Regions from separate parts of the Homo sapiens genome. Here region 2 is linked to region 1. A link means that fine-mapping ties the variant in region 1 to the expression of a gene that starts in the linked region. Tissue or cell type: thyroid. Region 1 holds a variant in brackets; the other region holds the start of a gene. All regions are shown on one strand. Distances are from middle to middle.

The links. PIP is the estimated chance that this variant, and not a neighbour inherited with it, causes the effect.
Region 2: LY6H starts here. The variant in region 1 is fine-mapped to the expression of LY6H in thyroid (GTEx, PIP above 0.99). The same link has a PIP of 0.9 or more in lung and sun-exposed skin.

Annotation. Positions count from the first base shown.
Region 1 is chr8:143,190,042-143,192,647 of GRCh38, forward strand. LOC107986906 (a long non-coding RNA gene) reads left to right here and starts at 1,518. Exons shown (of 2, transcript XR_007061137.1): 1 at 1,518-1,732. The variant G/A (reference allele first, on the strand shown) is at 1,428.
Region 2 is chr8:143,159,016-143,161,621 of GRCh38, forward strand. It overlaps LY6H (lymphocyte antigen 6 family member H), which reads right to left and starts at 1,306. Exons shown (of 4, transcript NM_001135655.2): 1 at 1,183-1,306; 2 at 567-694. The coding sequence starts at 1,184. LOC124902035 (a long non-coding RNA gene) reads left to right here and starts at 854. Exons shown (of 2, transcript XR_007061136.1): 1 at 854-971; 2 at 1,782-2,606.

The sequences.
Region 1 (2,606 bases):
GGCACTGGAGGAGGACAGCAGAGGAGAAGGGGAGGGCGTGTCTCCCCTAAGCTCCCCAGTCAGGGCCTTTGGAGAGTGCTGTCCCTGGGCCACCACCTCCTCACCAGGTCTGGGTGTGAGCGGGACAGCACTCTGGTGCCTGCCCAGGGCGGGGGAGCACAGGAGCCCTCCCAGGTCCCCGCCTCCCTCCTCTTACAGCGAGTGTCCCCCTGCATTCGTTTCCTGCGGCTGCTGTAACCAATTATCACAAACTATCACCAACTCCCAGCTTCAAGCAACCAGAAGGCTCTTCAAGGAAATCCTTCCTGGCCTCTCCCAGCATCTGGTGGCTGTAGGTGGTGGGCCGCCCTGGCCGTGGTCGCATCCTCTGATCCCTCCTCTGTCTTCACGTGGCCTCCTCGTCCTCTCTCTTCTACCGACACTTGCCGTTGGATTTAGGACCACCCCAAATCTAGGATGACCTCATCCCCAGACCCTTAACTTAAGGACAAAGGCCTTTTTCCAAATGAGCTCACATTACAGGTGCCTGGGGCTAGGACTCGGACATACCTTGTGGGGACCACTCAGCCCACTGCAGATGGGAGCACTTGAGCATCCAAAGTCAGTATAGTAAGTTCCAGAGCTCTATTGTCTCACAGGGTGACTACCATTAAGAAAAACATTGTATTCTTGAAAATTGCTGAGAGTAGTTGTAAATGTTCTCGCTTCAAATGCTAAGTATATGAGGTAATGTATATGTTAATTTGCTCAATTTTCCATTCCACAATGTACACATATTTCAAAACCACTTGCTGTACACAATATATACAATTTTTATTTGTCTAAATAAATAAAATGTCTTAGAAAAAATAATGACTGCAGTTTATGAAACCATACTGAACATAGCCGAGCCATGAGTTCATGATGACTCCAGAAGGAAGTTACAAAAACCTGGTATATTCATCCATTCGTGCAGAGCTAAAATAATTACCTGAGGCTGGCATGGTGGCTCACGCCTGTAATCCTAGCACTTTGGGAGGCCAGGGCAGGCAGATTGCCTGAGCTCAGGAGTTCAAGACCAGCCTGGGCAACATGGTAAAACCCTGTCTCTACTAAAACATACAAAAAAAAAAAAAAAAAGCCAGCCATGGTGACGGGCGGCTGTAGTCCCAGCAACTCAGGAGGCTGAGGCACGAGAATCACTTGAACACAGGAGGCAGAGGTTGCAGGGAGCTGAGATCGTGCCACTGCACCCCACAGCCTGGGCAACAAAGTGAAACTGTCTAAAAACACAAAAACAAAAAACAAAACAAAAAAAAACCCCACGAGACTGGGTAATTTATAAAGAAAGGAAGTTTAATTGACTCACATTTCCACAGACTGTACAGGAAGCAGGGCCAGGGAGGCCTCAGGAAACTGACAATCATGGCAGAAGGTGAAGGGGAAGC[G/A]GGCACAGCTTGTGGCCAGAGGGAGGAAGAGAGAGGAGGAGGAGGAGAGAGCGAAGCGGAAGGTGCCACGCACTTTCAAACAACCAGCTCTGGAGAGCACTCGCTCGCTATCACGAGAACAGCAAGGAGGAGCTCTGCCTCCATGATCCAATCACCTCCCACCAGGCTCCTTCACCAACGTTGGGGATTACAATTCAACAGGAGATCTGGGCAGGGACACAAACCCAAACTATGTCACCTGGGCACGGGGCAGCAGCTTGGATCTCCCAGGAGTGGACCCTGAGACAGGAAGGCCCGTGCTGGAGGTGGGTCAGGGAGTGCAGGAAGGGGTGGGAAGGACTGGGCGGCGGAGACACTGAGCCTCAAGGTCAGGCTTGGAAGACCTCACAGGGACTCTGCAGGGGTGGGGAGTACCCTTCCAGGTGGCTCTGAGCTGGGATGATGGGACAGGCCTTCTCGGCCACTGGGATCGGTCAGACATTGCCCATCTGTTGATCGAAACGTATCAGGAGCAGCGTTACCACCGGTACCTGCTGGCCCAGCCCAGCTCACTCCAACAGAGACAACCAGACCTTATATGCCTCATGACGTGGTGCAACGGGAGGCAGAAAGCACTCCTGAGCCTGGGCAAGATAGCATGACCCCATCCTTACAAAAAGTCAAAAAATTAGCCAGGCAGGGTGGTGACACTTGTGGTCCCAGCTACTTGGGAGACTGAGGCGGGAGGATTGCTTAAACCTGGGAGGTGGAGGCTTCGGTGAGTTGGGATCGCACCACTGCACTCCAGCCTGAGTGAGCGCAAGACTCTGTCTCAAAAAAAAGAGAAAGCCCTCCTGTAAAATATTCTCCCCAGACAATTGAACATGAATCTAATCAAGCCACACAGGAAATACAGAGGCTGGAGAAGCAAGTCCAAGGACAGCAAATTCCTACATGGAAACATCTACATGGAGCTGACTGCTCTCCCTAGAGGCCAGCATCACAAAAGAGCAGGCTGGGGTGACTGCCTTAGACAGAGGGAGACTTTAAGAACCCTAAAACCAAAACAACCAAATGCACATGGCCTTTGTTAGGAATATCCCATCAAATTATAGAAAGATGCTTTCACACAATCAGGAACACAGAGATGTAGACAGGTGTGTTAGTCCGTTTTCACGCTGCTAATAAAGACACACCCAA
Region 2 (2,606 bases), 31 kb before region 1:
CTCCTGGGAGAGCCCGACCCCACGGGAGGGAGCAGGCCCCCATGACCCCTGGAGGGGGAGCAGAGGCCCTGGGACAACTGTGCCCCATCCTGGCAGTTTGAGGGGAGCCCCTATGGCCCCTCCCTGGCCCCCATGCACGTGCGTGCACACACACACACAAACACACACACGGGCTATACAGACCCCACACCGACAGTGCCCCCCTCACACTCCCGCCCCGCCTCACATATCCCCCCCAGAGGTCCGTGGGTTCCAAGCTGTGAAGGACCAAACTGGATTTGAAAGGAGGCCCGGGAGGCTCTCAGAGGTGACGGATGACCAAGGGCTTCCGTGCGGGGCCAGCCGCCCACCAGTTCCAGGCCCTGGAGGAAGAGCGCTGGAGAGAGCCCAGTGCCGGGGCAGAGGGGCCGAGGGCCGGGCTGGGGTCGCAGGGGTCCCGGAGGGGGCGTGGGCTCTATGCGAAGTGCGGTGGGAACCGTCAGAGGGTGGCAGCCCCACACCCGGCTCTCCCGCGGCGCCTCGGGCTCTCCCAGGCACCTGACCCAGCCCGCGGGCCCCCTACTCACCGGGCGCCGAGCACAGCAGGACGGCCAGCAGCGCCAGGCCGAGGCCCTTCATGGCTGCAGGCAGCATGCTCCGGGTGGGCCTGGGGGCGGCGCGGGGGCTTGGGGCGCGGGTCCTCTGGGGCGCAAGCCTGGAGGGGAGAAGCATCGGTCAGGAGACCCCAAAGACCCTCTCCTTTCCCAGCCTCAGGATGCAACCTTCTCCCCGGAATCCAAGGCCGGGGTCCGCCCGGAGCTCGCAGAGCCCCACCCCCAGCCCCTTCTCCAGAGCGTCCGCCGTCACAGCATCCCCGCCGGGAGACGTCTGGCCTCTGGGGCGAGGTGACAGCTCGAGACGCCTCCGCCCCGCGCCGGCACCTGTGTGGGGGAGCGGATGGGGGGCGTCCTCTTCTCCCCGGGGAGCTGCAGGTGCGTCCGGACAGGAATGAGCGGCAGGGGCGGGAGCGGGTGGGACCTGCCACTGGGGGGAGGGGCGCGTGCCAGGTCCCCACCCCCACCCCTGGGCTGGGGGGCCGGGAACCCCGGGCCGAGTCCCCTCCCTTGGCCTTCCGCGCGCGCCTCGGCGCTCACCGCGGATGGGGCGTGGAGCGCGGGCCTCGGGGTCGGGGGGCTCACTCACATCCCGGGGGTGTCCGCACTCCGGGCTCGGGCGGCGTGCGCGGCGCGGGGAGCTGTGCCCTTCGGTCTCCCTGCGGACCGGAATCCGGGCGCAGCCTCGTCTTTCGGGGAACGCAGCCGCAGACGCGGACCCCGCGCGAGGGGCGGGGCGGAGCCGGGGCGGGGGCCGCGCGGGGGGCGGGGGCGGCTGGGAGACGCGCGGGGCGGGGGGCGCCCGGGGCTCGCGGCCCCCACGCAGGTAGCTGGCCCGGGCCCTCCGCGCCCCCTTGCTGGCGCGCGCGCTCCCTCGGGTTCCCGCTCCCTCCCTCGCGGCGCCCCCTGCTCCTCCCCAGCCTCCGCGGCCCCCTACCCAGGCGTGGGCAGGATCCCTTCCCCCTCTGCTTGGCTGAGATCCCCTTGGAATTTCTCGGAAGAACGTTTACTGCGAAAGGAAGCAAAATGCACAAAGACGCAGAGAGGGGGAGGTACCCGGCGCGGCGCCACGCGCAGGTCCGGGTTCGCAGACCCCTGGGGTCAGACTCCCGCCCTGGGGCCCCGCCCTCCCCCTCCTCCCCGCCCCTCCCCAACCTCATACCCGTTTCCCCGTTTCCCCGTTTCCAGTGGCTCCAGGCCGTTCTCCTCCCCTGAGCATCCATGAAGACCCCCACCAGAAGCCGCAGCCCCAGGGGCTTCTGTCGCCAAATACTCCCACACTCGGAGGTAAAGGTACAAATCCTGGCCAGAGCATCCGAGCCTTGGACCCGTTTCTCGGCTTCCTTGGCCTTCCCGCCCTGCCCTCCAGCTCCCTAAAAGCTGTGCCTTTGCACGTGTCCCTGTGCCTGAAATCCGCCTCCCCGGGGCACTGGGGAAGCCCCGATCTGCCATCGTGCCTTTGGTCCTGCTCCCTTTCATTTGACCTGAAAATGTTTACTGCATGCTCCCTGCTGCCCTAGCCCTGCCCTGAGCCCTGGGAAAGGGCATGAGGAGAGAGACCTGGTTTCTGCCCTCCTGACTCTCCCCTTGGACAAATGGTGATGCCTACTGCAGCATATCTTTGCAGGATGTGACAGAGCTAACATTTATTGAGCATGTACTATGGATTCCACCTGTTCTAGACACTTCATATTTATTATCTCCTTATAGTCTCACCACAGCCCTGCTGTGCAGATAGTATCATTTCCATCTCACAGATGAGGAGACTCACACGGAAAGGCGGCGCTCCCTGCTCGGGGTCACACAGTGACGCAGGTGACAGGTGACCCAGCTGAAGTGGGAACCCAAGCAGCTTGGGCTACAGGGACTGCACACCTCCGCTCCATTGTGGCTCCAGAGGGGTGGAGGCAAGGACGAGATGGACAAGAGACCACCACAGGAGCGTGCTTTGCCTCAGGGTCAGGGAGAGCTTCTCCCAGGACCTGATACTTTAGCCGAGAACTGAATGAGGAG